Linked DNA regions of Homo sapiens. The protein of the gene in region 3 purifies or fractionates together with the protein of the main gene of each other region. This does not show direct contact. Each region holds a gene or a part of one and is shown on either strand. Other genes may lie near its edges.

The links.
Region 1: the proteins of SHH (region 3) and EDEM3 purify together in Homo sapiens (affinity purification with western blotting, with the first as the bait; one study listed by BioGRID). This does not show direct contact.
Region 2: the proteins of SHH (region 3) and GSX2 purify together in Homo sapiens (affinity purification with western blotting; one study listed by BioGRID). This does not show direct contact.
Region 4: the proteins of SHH (region 3) and EDEM1 purify together in Homo sapiens (affinity purification with western blotting, with the first as the bait; one study listed by BioGRID). This does not show direct contact.

The regions. Positions count from the first base shown.
Region 1 is NC_000001.11:184,752,046-184,756,224, reverse strand, and holds the start of EDEM3 (ER degradation-enhancing alpha-mannosidase-like protein 3 isoform 2 precursor), read left to right. Parts: upstream 1-1,366; 5' UTR 1,367-1,578; coding exon 1,579-1,736; intron 1,737-4,179. UniProt on the Homo sapiens protein: Involved in endoplasmic reticulum-associated degradation (ERAD). Accelerates the glycoprotein ERAD by proteasomes, by catalyzing mannose trimming from Man8GlcNAc2 to Man7GlcNAc2 in the N-glycans.
Region 2 is NC_000004.12:54,098,852-54,102,968, reverse strand, and holds GSX2 (GS homeobox 2), read right to left. Parts: upstream 2,807-4,117; 5' UTR 2,625-2,806; coding exon 2,051-2,624; intron 1,388-2,050; coding exon 1,047-1,387; 3' UTR 471-1,046; downstream 1-470. UniProt on the Homo sapiens protein: Transcription factor that binds 5'-CNAATTAG-3' DNA sequence and regulates the expression of numerous genes including genes important for brain development.
Region 3 is NC_000007.14:155,802,442-155,806,004, reverse strand, and holds part of SHH (sonic hedgehog protein isoform 1 preproprotein), read left to right. Parts: intron 1-2,278; coding exon 2,279-3,105; 3' UTR 3,106-3,563.
Region 4 is NC_000003.12:5,190,655-5,194,217, reverse strand, and holds part of EDEM1 (ER degradation-enhancing alpha-mannosidase-like protein 1), read right to left. Parts: exon of another isoform or gene 1,915-3,563; coding exon of another isoform or gene 1,886-1,914; exon of another isoform or gene 1,861-1,885; intron 1,280-1,860; exon of another isoform or gene 1-1,279. UniProt on the Homo sapiens protein: Extracts misfolded glycoproteins, but not glycoproteins undergoing productive folding, from the calnexin cycle.

The DNA.
Region 1 (4,179 bases), on a different chromosome or scaffold from region 3:
ATCAGGACAGATATTGATTTAGAAATCAACCACAGAGATATGTTGGCTGAATCCTTATGAGAAGAAATCACCAAGGAATAATTAGAGTACAGAGAGAAAAAGGACAAAAAGAAAACCTTAAGGGAACACCTGTATTTTAATATAAAGTAGCGAGAGAATGAAGGAAAACGGGTCAGCCAGAGAAGAGGTAAGAGGTTAAGAGGTAAGAGGTAAGGTGATAAAAGTCAAGGAAGAAACGTTTCCAGAAAGACCGCCGAATACTGCTTAAAGGACACGTAAGTAATTTACTGTGGTCACAGAGATCACATCGAAGCTCCTAAACTCCGCACCTATTGAATGACCACACTAGAAAAACAATGTGGTTTTTCAAGAGGAACCGATGTGTCATTTTACCAATAGTTAACCTGGGACTCGGTCATCAAAATTCATTGCAAGTTCCAATCTCCTTCATTAAACCTTCTTTGCAGCCCACACAGCTCTCCTTACATTGAGCTTTTGAGGTAACTATTATTAATCATGTACGAGGACCCACGTGCTCCTTCATCCTTGTAGTACTGCGCGGTGGTTAAATGCAAGGGCTTCCGAATCAGAGGCTGGATGGATTCTAATACAGCAGTGTGACGAGCTCTTGTTAACCAACTTTTCTAAGCCTCTGTTTTCTCGTCTGCAAAAGGGGGATGGTGGTACTTACTCTATCAGAGTTGAGAAGAGTGCATGAGATGATTGCGAGTAAAAACCTTAGCGCAATGCCTTCAAAGGCTCAATTCATTTTGCTGTTACTGTGTTTTGGAATTTCCCTGAGGGTAGACGACTACTCCAACACTATTCCCTAACGCAGCAGCACTGACATGGGGACAGTGCGCCTCATTCAGCCAGCTCTCTGGGAAACAACTTTCTGAGGAAGAGAGATAAACAGCTGACGGGTTTCCCGGGACTCCGCAGCCCACCGAGACAGGGTTGACTGTAGGGCGCCGAGGAAAGGGGGAGGTGGGATCCCAGCAACCACTGGCGACCTCGGAGGACCGCAAGTCCCAGGGTGCAGCGCGCCTACCCCGGGTAGAAGCGAGAGACACGGCTCCGAGTCGGCTCGCGGGAGAGCCGGGGAAGAAGCAGTGCACACTGGGACTGGTAGTCCTCAGGGGGCAACTCCGCGGGTCGGAGGCGGGTCGAAGCGAGAGATCCCTTCCCAGTCCCGCCTTTTGTCCACGTCTCACTTCTCCTGGCCAATGCCCTCTCCAGTCGCCGGAGACAGCCCCTCTCCCATGAGGTCTCCATTGGTCCTGAGGCTCTACGGCTTCGGCCCTACCCGGAAGTAACGTTGGGGAGGCGGTTTCCTAGACTACGACACCGGAAAGCTGGGGGAGGCGCTCCGGGATACTGAGGGCGGAGGGCGGTGGCAGCGCTGGCGCTGGGGACCGGCTTGGTGGCTTCGGGAAACAGTTTGGCGCCGGCGGCCGTCCGTGTTACTCCGCATCCCGCCCCGTCTCGGCACGGCTAGCAGCCCCCTGGCCACCAGCGTCCAGCAATGTGTCTCACCGGCCGGGCGTAGCAGCTGCGCGTGCGCGGAACCGCGGGGCCATGAGCGAAGCCGGCGGCCGGGGCTGTGGGTCCCCGGTTCCCCAGCGAGCGCGATGGAGACTAGTGGCGGCGACGGCCGCGTTCTGCCTGGTGTCGGCCACCTCCGTGTGGACGGCGGGGGCCGAGCCCATGAGTAGGGAGGAGAAACAGAAGCTTGGGTAAGGGTGCTGGCAGCCTGGGGTGGGTTTCTCGGTGAGGCTGACAACAGGAGGGGTGCCTGTCATTGCGACCCGGTCGCGTAGTGGCCTCTCCTGTCGCGATTGGAACGGCTCTTCCCGCGCGAGAACCCTAGAGGGGTGGACAGGGTCCGGGGAGGTGGGAACCGCCGCCCGCGACCTGACCTCGGGGGAGCTGACGGGGTGTCGCCCTGGCCGCCGGTGACATGTGCAGGCTCCTTGAAGCCAGGCGCGGTGTGTCAACGCGGCTGCCATGTCAGTGGCCCAAGAAGGGGGCTACAGCCCGCATCGCTGCGCGCTGGAGTTCTGCGGTTGGCTGCCTGTCGACCGAAGCATGGTTAGCTTTCTCGCGCAAGTGAGCTTCCAACTGGGAAAATGTTGCTGATCTCACAGTAGTTAAGGAAATGATGTTTACACCTGTTACGGAAAAGGGGGCGTTCATTGGAACTTGAACTTTACACATTTTACTATTTCCTTGCAGTGTTTTCTTGCACTGTATTTTCATAATAGAATGTTTGGGGGGAAATTATTCAAAAGTCTCAAGTATACCTATTCAGTAGTTTTTATCCGTCTTGGAAGTGTGTTAAAATTATCAATTCTATTTACACCATTTAATTCAGAGTAATACATACACGAGGTCCTACACATGAATAAGAAAAAAGCGAAGAACCAGTAGGAAATGGGAGAAAGGCATGAACGGTTAAGCCAGAAGAGGAAATGGAAGTGGTAAATAAACATGAAAAGTTACTCAACCTCCATAAACGTAGGAGATGCAGATTAAAACGAGGAGCTAGCTGGTTTTTGCCCATCAGATTAGTAAATATAATACAAAACACAAGGATACGGTTCTGGTTAGTTAAGGAATAGAAAAAAAAGGCTTAGTGAGAGTGTAAATTGCTGTAACTTATTGGTAGTATCTACTAAAATTTAAATTGTGCACACTTTGATTCATCAGTTCTATTTCTGAGAATCTACCCTAAGAAAATAAAAGCACTCTTAATGCAGAGATAGATCCAGCCTGGGCAACAAGAGCGAAACTCTGTCTCGAAAAAAAAAAAAAAAAGTGCATTTTGAAAGAACAGCTCTTCCTTGGAGGAAATGGTTCAATAGGGTACGTTCATATTATGGAATAATATTGAGACATTAAGAAGAAGGAAGTACGTCACTGGAAGCCTATCCAGAATATATTTCCAAAACAAAAAAAAATGCAAGTTGTAGAATAATATGTATAGTATCATCCCATGTTTTTTTTAAAAAAGAAAAAAAAAATCTGAGCTCAGAAAAAAAGTGGAACGAAGATTATCTCATGGGGTTAGGCTGGAGGGGTGGTGGAACCATCAGGTCTTACTTTATGTACTTTAAATCATTGCAAAGAGTCTTGTATTCGTTTCTAAATAGCAATAAAGGTCACTTGATGGAAAAAAGCTGAAGTATCAACCATCAAAATAAAATTACCGGTAAACTCTAATAAATATCTTACATTTTCTCTCATATGAATTTAATGTATCATTGATAAGTTTTACCAAATATCTCACTCTGTGAATACTTTACATATGTTATCTCTGTACTCCTTCCTATTTCCCAATGAATATGATCCACATTTGCAAATGAGGAAGTTGAGACCCAAGGTTGACTTGTTCAGCCACAAAGCTAGTAATTGGTAGAGCCAGCATTCAAACCCAAGCCTGTCTGATCCCAGAGCCAGGCTCTCTCCAGTATGTTGCACGTTCATTAGACTTGGAAGAGAAGTATCAAGTCTGTTAAGAACCACAAGAATCTTATTTGACTATCACTACCCTTTCTTCATTTTTTATTAAAAACTTATTTGTAAAAGAGTCATTGGATAAATCATTTTTGACCAAAATTAGTTTTTAACTGGAAAAGTTCAACCAAATTGGCTTGAAATTTCAGCTCAAATTTTGAGATCATTTATGAAAGTGAAATTACAATTATTTAGGCTTGTTAGATTGCTCTACCCTTGAGTAAGGGTAGGGTAAGAATCTAGAGCTATAAACGACAAATACACAATTATATGACTGCTTTCTCTGGGAATTTTCAGAAAACTGAACTTTGATTCATTAGGTTTACCTGTGCATTTTTTAAAGCCCAAATAATGATTCATGATAAAAAGCAGAAAATGCCCCACCCCTTTCCCTCCCCACCAACAAACCAAATAGTTGATAAAGACTGGAATTGTCATGAATAGTAAGCAATTGCTCAATAACTTACACTTTGTGGAATTACTTAGCTGGTTATATGTAGTCTTATCCTTCATGGAATAAGCTTTTTGGTTTTGTTTTTAAAATTTTGCAACAGGGTATTTTGTTAATGTTATGTTTTCATTAAAAAATGAAGTAGAAAACAATCCAGTTTCTATAGCACGTGGGCAGGAGACGTAACTTTAGAAAAAGCCGACTTGGCCTGG
Region 2 (4,117 bases), on a different chromosome or scaffold from region 3:
TTTGATGGATTGTTGCTCTTCCTAAAACTATTCTGACTCTACAAATTCCTTCACATAATTCAAGTTTTCGTACTGAGAGAAATGAGGAAGTAGAAAGAAGAAAACAAAAACTAGATGGGGGATTTTTACCCTTCCTTGCTAAATAAAGGTTTACCTGTCGTTAATGGTCAGTGTCATTCCAAATGGAGTGATTTGTCCTATCAACTGTGAGGAGGTTGCCTATTTTAAGGATGGAGAGGCACTGCCTGGTAGATGCCATCATGACTAAAGGTGTCTCCTTGGCGAAAGTTCTGTTACATAGAAAACCCATTGAGCCACAAACTCCCTCAGTCAAGAGACCCACATTACCAAGTTCTTACTCAACATTTTCCTCGAATTCCTCAGACAGCTTTTTCCTGCATATGCCTTTCTCTAGACATTGGAGGAGGGGGCAGGAGAAGATAGGGAGAGCAAACACCACAGATTTAAAATTCTGGTTTTTGTTTCATTTATTTAAATAAATATAAATATAAATTTTATATAAACCTATTCACATACAAAGGGACTTCCAGCGACTTAGATTTTAAATTCTCCCCAGGCGAAATTTCAGAAAGCAAGACCTACAAGGTCTAATTTTCTAAATTATTTTCAACTTGGGTGTTTTTGTTTGAAAACGACAACAGAAAATAATCAATAAATCCTGTGTTCTTATCGAGTTCTGAAAGAGAGTAGGGATGGGGAACTGACATGTGCTTTCAAAAACCCCATACAGTGTTAAACTTAAACCAACCCTGTTTTTCCTCTGTTATACGACAAGAATGAGTTGAATTATAGGTTATTTACATTTTTTAAAAAAATCTGTAACTTCAAGTTGGAGTCCTAGATAAACAGGTCAAGAAGGAGACGCGAAGGGTCAGGTCCCGGCTTGTCCATTCCAGAACTTCCAGGTTCGTTTCTTCTCCAGATGGGACCACTGCAATGAGCAAGGATTCTGGCCCCTGGGTGCCCCACGCCTTGGCGTTGCCTGGTCTGCCAGGAGCGGGGGATGTGAGGGAGGAGGCCCTCCCTCATAAGGGGGAAATCTCCTTGTCATCGTTGGCTGAGGCCGGCGACAGGGAGTCCTCATCCTCGGAGCGCGCGTAGTGCACCTGGCTCCCGACGCACTTGCAGCCCGCGTGACTGTTCCTCTGCGTGCCCTTCCCCTCCTTCTTGTGCTTCACTCGGCGGTTCTGAAACCAGATTTTCACCTGCTTCTCCGACAGGTTCAGGTAAGTGGCGATTTCAATCCTCCGGAGTCGAGACAGGTACATGTTGGAAGAGAATTCTCTCTCCAGCTCCAGGAGTTGCGTGCTAGTGAACGCCGTCCTCATCCTCTTGCCATTGGGTACCTGGCTGGCGTCAGAGCCTCCTGCGGACCGGCGAAGAGAGGGTAGAGAGGTAAGGCTCGGGCAAGGTGCTCCCACCCCATGTGCTAACCAGGACGCATTTCAGGGACCCACCCGGGGAAGCCCAGCCGAACATCTGTATCCCTTTCCCATTTCAAGGCACGTGGTTGCTTAGCGGGGAAGAAAAGAGACGTGCAAAGCAAATAAAGGTCTTCGATGCGCAGGATGCGAAGTCACAGGATTAAAGAGGGATGGGGGCTTGCACTATCTGATCGCCTCCCTTTGAGCCAAGCGGAGAAGCGCGCAGGCTTAGCCAAAAACGTCAAGACGCTTTAGCCGCCCCGACGCGGGGATGCCACACAGGTTCAAACACACCCACCCCAAATCCCAAGCAGTTAACCTCTGGTTTATCCGCCGTGACGTTCGAGGTCCCTAAGGCCCCAGTATTAATAAGGCAATACTCGAGCACCTACTACTAGGAGTAAAACGCACCAGGCTGAGTGGAGAAGCTGGCAAACTAACTTCCACTTTCGTGGAACTTCTGTGGCTGACTCTACGGTTACACTAAAAGCCCGTCCTCTCTCTTCACCCTGTCCCCGGGCTCCCACTTCCTCCACTGGAGGTGGAAAGTTTGCTCCAGGAGCGCGAAAGGCGCGGAGCGCAGGTGCCCCAAGACCCCGCCCTACCCATGGTGAGGCAGTGGAATCTCCGCGGGTCCGCCACGTTGTAGGTGGTGGCGGTGCAGACAGGTGCGTGGTGCTGCGGGTGCCCCAAGGCCGCCGCGGCCGCCGCCGCCGCTGCTGCTGCTGCCGCCGCCGCGGCCGAGCCAGGCTGCTGGGGCTGATGATGGTGATGGTGGTGCTGCGGCGGGTGGTGGTGATGATGCGCATGGTTCACCCGCGGGCAAAACTGCGCGTCCCCAGGAGCCGAAGAGAACTGGCCCTTAAGCAGAGGCAGTGCCCCTGCGGCCCCTGCCACCCCACTGCCTCCGGCCCCGGTAACCCCGGCCCCTGCGCCCCCGCTGCCGGCGCCCACAGACCCCCGAGAGGAGTGCAGGTGCGAAGTGACGCAGAGAGGGCACACGCAGAACGCGCCGCTCTTGCGGGACGGGCAGCCGGGGCCGGACACGGACATCACCAATGGGGGCGGCATGCCAAGCGGGATGAAGAAATCCGGCCCGGGGTGCGGTTCAGGCAGCGAGGGCGCAGGCCGTGAGGTGTCCTTGATGATGAGCGAGTCGACATAGAAGGAGCGCGACATGTCGAGAGGGGTGGGTGGCTGGAAGCCCCGGCAGTTCGCGGCGACCCCTCTCCTCTAGTGTTCTAAGCTCTGCCCTGGGAGCCGCGCAGACACGGGCAGTCAAGCCCTTGGGGACGCAGAGGTGTTGGCGTCTGGGCTGGGAACAAAGGGGTCCCCGGAGAGGGCTGGTCCTCACGTCCCCCGCCCGGCGCCCCGGCTCGGGTATTTTATAGCCCCCCACCCTGGCACGTGATGCTGCGGAGTACCGCTCGGCTCAGGCTCCTCGGCAGCTCCGCACCCTCGGGATAGGCTGCCCGAGTCACAACAGAAGCCGCGAGGAGGGGCGGGCGCGCGGCGGGGAAGAACTCGGGGGAGGGGGATGGGGGAGACTTTGCAAAGTGTAGGTTTTGTTAATTTCCCGGGGAGGCCGGCCTCCTCCCCCTCTTTCTCCACGCTTTACTGAGAAATCACAGCGCTGCATCCTCCATCCCACCCCCTCTCGCTACCCTGGCCGCAGCCCAACTCTTCCCCACGCCCCACCGCAAAGCGTACCAGGTGGGGACTTGGAGGCTTATTTAATAGGAATGCTCAGTGTTTCCAGCTCCTCTGTGGTAGGGGTGGCTGCGGCGCGGTGAAGTGTGAGGCCTGCGGTTTGGAGCAGGATTGTGCGGGCGACGGACTGGCAGTCGTCCAGTCCCTGAGCGCAGCTCTGGCCACGGTTACACCTACCCCTGTCCACAGCTTTTGGACTTGGCAGAGGTCATTCAGGTGGTTAGTTCAGGACTGTCCGGCGCAGAACTGTGAGGCCTCCCAGCTAAGAAACCGTCAAGCTTTTCATGCTGATGTTCGACAAGGTCTGAAGTGTCTTTGTACTTGGGGCCCTCCTGGGGCCACTCAGACCAACGACCCTTCCTTGTTTCCCTTTCTGATCGGCACCTCCCACTTCCGCAGAGAGAGAGAGATGTTGAAGAGTCACCCTTTTCTTTCTCCAAGTAGTAACACCATGGCATTCCAGGGCAATCCTACAAACTCCATCCTGAAGATTTTGGAGGGAGGACCTCAAACACCAAGCCCTCCTAAAGACGCAGCAGGGATTAGATAGACCTTCGCTCTGGGTCTGAGGATTTCCTGTCCCTCATTTTTACCAATCATGGGCAGCTTAGCAAGGCTAACCAGGAAGCACTCTTTCCTCTGCATCTTAAGAACCTAAAAAGGATGAAGAGGATTCAGCCATCCAGGGAATCTTGCCTCTGATTGGCAGAAGTGGCTTTGTAAGGGAACTCTCTCTGGTCCATGGAAGTCTTGCACACCCCTTACTGCCCGAGAGAGGGTGGCTGCCAAACTATTGGGACTATTTATCTTCGGAGAAGGCAAGGCAGCAGAGGTGGCCATTTTCTCTCTTCATTTCCCCCTGCAGAAAAGCGGGCTGGGGCCATGTGGTTGGGCAATAGTTAGAAGTCTGATCCTTTTTCCAGAGCAGCTAACTTCAATCCTGAGTTCATGATGGTGCTAAG
Region 3 (3,563 bases):
GAGGGGCGCTAGGCCCTTCCAGGCGAGGGAAGACAGCCCTGCGCGGTTAGCCAGGTCTGGGCGAGCTCCTTCCTCTCGTTTAGGGCTTAAGAACCAACCGCCCCCACCCGCTATCCCAAGCGCAGGGGTGTCTATCCTGCCCCGGAGCCCGCGTCCTGGCTCCTCCCCGCCGGGCGCCCGTGGATCCTAAGCTGCCTTTGGGGAGAGGCCTGGTGGGCGGCAGTAAACCCAGGGGCAACCACCTCCAGCATCTGGAGGCGGCGCGCCCGGAGCCTGCGTTCCTACTGGGAGCCGGGCCGGGACGCCCTGGGCGGCGGGCAGGCCCCGAAACGCCGGCCCGAGTCGGCGCGAGGCTGTCTTCTCTGGGCCTGCAACGCCACACGCTGTTGCCGGCGAGGAACAGCCGTGGAGGAGGCGCCATCGCGCGCACGCAAACCTCCGGCCCGAGGCTGTGTGCACAGCGCTCTTCTCCGCCCGCATAAATTGGCACGTTTAGCAAAGCCGTTCACGGTGAATTTCGGGGAAACTCTGCCTTCCTCAACCCCCTTCCAGGCTTCCCTACTTGTCTCCTAAATTCCATGTTAATGGCACTATGTTAGTAGGAAAACACTGTTAAGGTGTCAAGGCACACTTGTAGGTAAAGGCTAGAGTGGCTTCTCGTCCCCACAGAAAGCAAAGGCGTGGAGCGGGGGCGGCAGGGGCGGGTGTGCGGCCCGGAGAGCTCCCGGCTGCAGGCAGGCAGGAGGCGGCGCCCCCACCTCGCGGGCTCGGCGGCGGCCCCTGGGCCCAGGGCGCCCCCTGCGCAAAACCTCCTCCCCGGCTCCCTGCCCGCGGGGTCCCCCTAGCGGGGGTCTCCGGAGGCCTCCTCCCAAGTGAGCAGCGCTAATCCATCCCCCGGATCGCGCCGGGAGAGCGGAGCCGCGGCGCGGGAGCCGCTCATTGGCATTCTGAGCACACGGGCGGGGGCGCGGGGCGCAGCGTGTCAAGCCGGGCCGTGCGACTCGACGACTCGGGCTCGCCAGCGCCCGGGGTCGCATTCCGGGGGGCTACGGAGGGCCTCCAACGGCCAGCCCCGCACTTCATGCCAGAGAAACCGATGAGAAGATTAAAAGCCCCCTGTAATTCCAGCAGGAAGATTCTTTCTGGCAATCTCTATTTGCAAAAAGCATGATCCCGGAGATTGGAATGCAAAGAAGACGGCCCTCCCCGCCCTCCTCCCCGGCCCCCTGCGCTCCGCCCCAACTTCAATTATTGTCCTGGGGACAGTGAGCCTCAGAGAGCGACAGAGGGCTCGAGAAAGCGGGTAGTCAAGGGGCCTTGAGACCCGGCGCTTCCAGCGCTCCGAACAGGCCCCGCCATTTAAAATTCAAATACACATCTTGAGTGCTTGGAAGAGAGGCCTGGCTGTGCAAATAGTGCTTGTGAATTGCACACGGGGTGGGGGGGGGTTGCACCTGAGCAAATAGGGAGGGGGAGGCCCGCGAGCTGGGGAGAGAGTGAGCTGAGAACAGGGAGGGGAGAAAATGGAAGTGTCCCCTTCCAAGAGTGTCTCCTGTTTATCCCAGAAATCACAATGACAATGCTGGGCCCTTTATTGGATTTTAATTAGAAAATCCACACAAGCCTCGGATTTTCACACCTCGGCCAATCTCTGGAATGTTTGTCCAGTTGCTACAACTACTGCAGCTATTTTTCACTCCCCGCCCCCGCCCCTCCGCAGGCCCACGCCGAGGCGCGGCAGGGTGCTGCGGGCAGGCGGGCAGGCGGGCAGGCGGGCCAGGGGTTTCCGCCGCGCAGCCCGGGTGCTGAGTGCGCGAGCAGGCGCCGCGCCCCGCGCCGGGGCGGGAGGGAAGGAGGGTGCGCCCGGCGCCCGCGGGAGCTCAAGGAGGCTTCCTGAGGAATCCAAGTGCAGAGCAAACACCCTCTGGATGGATTCGCGGCGAGGCCGGGTGTGTGCGGAGCTGGGGGTGGGGTTGGAGGAAGGCGGAAGGAAAGAGTGTCACCGGCCTCTGCAGGAAACGCCAGCCAACCTCTGTGACCGCCAGCCCAGACTTAGAGAGTCGTTAAGGAATGTGTCGGAATCCTGTCCCTGGGGCAGTGGGGTTGGGGGAGGGAGGTGTGTGCGGGACCCGCCTGGAATCAATCGCCCCGCCCCGCGCCTTGCGCACCCCTGGCCTAGGAGCGCGGGCACCAAGCGTGCGCCCTCCTCCCCGAGACGCGCCTCCCTCTCGGAACTCAATGCCCTGTCCTCTCTTCTTTCCCTTCTCCTCACCCGCAGAGAACTCGGTGGCGGCCAAATCGGGAGGCTGCTTCCCGGGCTCGGCCACGGTGCACCTGGAGCAGGGCGGCACCAAGCTGGTGAAGGACCTGAGCCCCGGGGACCGCGTGCTGGCGGCGGACGACCAGGGCCGGCTGCTCTACAGCGACTTCCTCACTTTCCTGGACCGCGACGACGGCGCCAAGAAGGTCTTCTACGTGATCGAGACGCGGGAGCCGCGCGAGCGCCTGCTGCTCACCGCCGCGCACCTGCTCTTTGTGGCGCCGCACAACGACTCGGCCACCGGGGAGCCCGAGGCGTCCTCGGGCTCGGGGCCGCCTTCCGGGGGCGCACTGGGGCCTCGGGCGCTGTTCGCCAGCCGCGTGCGCCCGGGCCAGCGCGTGTACGTGGTGGCCGAGCGTGACGGGGACCGCCGGCTCCTGCCCGCCGCTGTGCACAGCGTGACCCTAAGCGAGGAGGCCGCGGGCGCCTACGCGCCGCTCACGGCCCAGGGCACCATTCTCATCAACCGGGTGCTGGCCTCGTGCTACGCGGTCATCGAGGAGCACAGCTGGGCGCACCGGGCCTTCGCGCCCTTCCGCCTGGCGCACGCGCTCCTGGCTGCACTGGCGCCCGCGCGCACGGACCGCGGCGGGGACAGCGGCGGCGGGGACCGCGGGGGCGGCGGCGGCAGAGTAGCCCTAACCGCTCCAGGTGCTGCCGACGCTCCGGGTGCGGGGGCCACCGCGGGCATCCACTGGTACTCGCAGCTGCTCTACCAAATAGGCACCTGGCTCCTGGACAGCGAGGCCCTGCACCCGCTGGGCATGGCGGTCAAGTCCAGCTGAAGCCGGGGGGCCGGGGGAGGGGCGCGGGAGGGGGCGGGGCGGGGCAGCAACAGCAACGCAAAGCAAAAAGACACTCGGAAAAGGCGCACGAACCAGACTGAGTTATAATAAGAATAAGAATAATAAAGTAGGACAGTCCAAAGTAGACTCTAAGGAAACAAGGACCCCGGGAAGTTTTGTTGTTGTGCTTAGTTGATATATATTTTTTGAATTTTTTTGGTTATTGTTTTATTTTGGTTATTTTTTCCTCCTCTCCTGGCTATTTATTTGTTTGGTATGAATAGATGTTTTAAATAATATGAACCGGACCTTCAAGAGCCTTAAATAGTTTGTTTCTTGGATAATTTATTATGATCATGTGAACTGTACTCACGGGGGAAAGATTATTTTGTGAGGCCAAGCAACCTGCTCAGAGTCTATTTTTCTACATGTCCCTCGTCCCGGCTGTCAGAAAGCAA
Region 4 (3,563 bases), on a different chromosome or scaffold from region 3:
CTCCAGTTTTATTTCCAGCAAGATGCATTGATATCTGCAGTCTTCCATCATATCCCAAAGCACTTCATCTGCTCCTCGGATCACCCTAATGGGTCCTTATCTCACCTTCCAGTCAGAGAAGCTTCTGGTGCACAGCACCTCTCGTGTTGTGATGGCTTGCTGTGGTCTCTGAAAGGCCTGTGCCTCAGCTGGGGAAAATGGGGCTTATGTGAAAGAGGCATAACAGCTCCAATGTCTCATTTTATTTGAACCCTCCAGTTGCCTTGTTTTATGCTGTTACACCATCTAATCTAAAGCAAAGAATTTATAGTAAAATTTTAGGCTGGGTGCGGTGGCTCACGCCTGTAATCCCAGCACTTTGGGAGGCCGAGGTGGGTGGATCATCCAAGGTCAGGAGTTCAAGACCAGCCTGGCCAACATGGCAAGACCCTGTCTCTACTAAAAATACAAAAATTAGCTGGGCGTGGTGGCAGGCGCCTGTAATCCCAGCTACTAGGGAGGCTGAGGCAGAAGAATTACTTGAACTCAGGAGGCGGAGGTTGCGGTGAGCCGAGATCATGCCATTGCACTCCAGCCTGGGCAACAAGAGCGAAACTCTGTCTCAAAAAAAAAAAAAATTTTAGATACTGTTTTTTTGAAACGAGATATATATGGGGGCTATAGTCTAGGAACTAGGGCTAGCTCATTTCCTATAAGCTGGGAAGTCAGAAAACTGCTTGGCTGGAAAATTGTACCTGTTTTTTCTATTTGTTGATTTTCTGGAAATAAACTTATACAATAGCAAAAGGTCCCCTCAAAGCAAGAGCTATGGATTCAAATATGCCTCTCAAGCGCAAGTGACAGCCAAAAAAGGTACAAAAAGTGCAAGGGTTGCAGGAGGGGCTCAAAGGAGACAGGGAGATCCTTACGCCCAATTCTGCCAACTCAAGAATGTTCTGCTCTGTGTAAATATTTCACTCTGTTGCTCTGCCGCTTAGAAACAGAGTGGGCTTCAACAGCCCACCTCATCAGAAAACAGCTCCCTCATCATGTAGCATCCAAGCTAGATGGTAATCAGGAGAACCACATGTAACTCCCCTCTCCTGAGTCACACCCAGATCTGCGGCATGTGTCATTCTATCCACCTGCACAGGCCCATGGAAGGAAGGTACTCACTGTGAGCACTGAACTCCTTTCTATGTTTTATTGTGCTTTGCCTTGTAATCTATAACTAAAATAGACCCAGTTTTAAAATATTTTTTACAATGCCCAGTCACTAAAAATTAATGAGCTGCCACAGTAAAAAAAAAAAAAAAAATTACTTGCAGTAACTGTGGGGTTTCTTCTCTCCACTCTAGTCAGACAAATCCTCTCTAAGATCTGGGGTATTTACTCATTAGAACACTTTTAATTCTTTCTTACCAAATAATTGCTACATCCTCTTTCAAAAGGTGCCAAAATAAGGGGGAAGTGGGAGTGAGGATGAAGGAAGAAAAAAAAACACCATAAAACTCTACTGGCCTAACAGCATGAAATTATTATGACTCCATTTATGCCAGCCCACTATGCAGCTCAGACTCTGGATTTGTTCTTTGTAGATATTCTTGTCAATCTCCAGCCTAACCTGATACCTTTAAGTTCATCCAGCAAGAACTCAATACCTTTCCCTGTAACCAGCTGGCTGAACCGCACAACTAAACGCTCCACTTACTTCACCAGGTACAAATGTTCATGGCATTCACCCCACTGTAAATTTTTAAAGTTCACCTCAAAACAGAAAAGATGGAGAAAACCATGGCCTTTGATAGAAAATTTTTGATTATGTAGCTAACAAAATCAAACATATGTGTTTTTAAATTTAAATTCCCATGTATACTTAACCTGTAACAGCTGTTCAGAAATCTACCTGGTGTGGTGTAGGCACAGAGATAACATAAGAAACAGTCCCTGCGTTCAAGGGATTGATAATCTGGAGAGACAAGACAAAGGGAAATGCAGGTGAATACACAACAGTACTCAATCCTCAAATAAGGTTAAAATGTAGAATCGCAGCTCAAAGGAAAGGAATCAAAAGAAGAACTGAGCAAATAAAGGAAAATCATCTTCAAACAGTTAGATGGTGTCACGGAAACAAGAGGAGCCTGACTCTGAAAGAGGGCAGGACTTTCCAAAGAAAGAGGAATGCAGAGGAGGCCATCTTGAGCTAGTAGTACCTAAGCATTTGAGGGGCCAATATTTGTTTGGCTTAATTTGAGATTTGTTTTGTTGTTTTAATAGCAATACAGTTGAGAAGAAATTGAGAATGGTCACATGCCCAAAAGCCAGAACTACAGTTAACCATTCACAGGATTACAAAAATATAATATCCACATTTACTCAAAGAAACTTTAAATTTGGATCCTCCAACCCAAATTAAGGATGTGAGAACTGACTTTGCATAGTTATCTTAGACAGATCTGCTCTTTTTAGAGTGTTCAGGTTTTATTCACTTCATGTTAACTCCTTACCTGATACCTCCCCAAGAACAAGTCACATGTACTTGAGGCAAGATAAGTTTGGAGCATATATGACTACAGAGAAACGGTAAGAGTGTTTAGCACCGAAATTTTCTATGTGTACTTTTTATATAATACTCTAATGGCAAATTCACTCTTGTTAAATGAGTCATTAGAATACATTTGATTTTTTAAAATCTGAAAGATTTTTGGCTGGGCTTGGTGGCTCACACCTATAATCTCAGCACTTTGGGAGGCCAAGGCGGGAAGACTGCTTGAGGCCAGGGGTTTGAGACCATCCTGGGCAACAAAGTAAGACCCCACTTCTACAGAAAAATTAAAAAAAAAAAAAATTAGCCGAGCATGGTGGGGCACACCTCTAGTCCCAGCTATTCGGGAGGCTGAGGCAGGAGGACTGCTTGAGCCCAGGAGTTCAAGGCTGCAGTGAGCAATGATTATGCCACTGCACTCCAGCCTGGGTGACAGAACAATACCCTGTCAATTAAACAAACAAACAAAAAATATGAAAAATTTTTATTACAGATTATTTAGTTTGGGGATGTGAAGTACCCTCCTGTTTCAAAGCCAGCATGACAATACTCTGGTTTTAAACTTTCCTCAAGGCCTAGTATTCGATAGCATAACAGGAGGACTACAGTCAATAATAATTTAACTGTACATTTTAAAATAACTAAAAGTATAATTGGATTGTTTGTAACACAAAAGAAAAATGCTTGAGGGGTTGGATACCCAATTTTCCATGATGTGATTATTACAAATTGCATGCCTGTGCCAAAATATCTCATGTACCCTATAAATATATACACCTACTGTGTATCCTCAAAAATTAAAAATAAATTTTTTTAAAAAATATTTAAAAAAAAGCAAAGCCTGAGAGGAGTTAAAGGAAGGAGAGTACAAAAAATTAAGTTTTCCACTGTTTGTAAGTGGCAAGTGTGAGGCGTCCATGCAAGGCTTCTTTGGCCTCCTCAAAGACAACAAAGGTTTACCAACCAACGGGCCTACCCAGCTCAGGGCACAACCCTTCCCTAATGCCATCCCCACCTCCTCAATACTTCTAAAACCCTC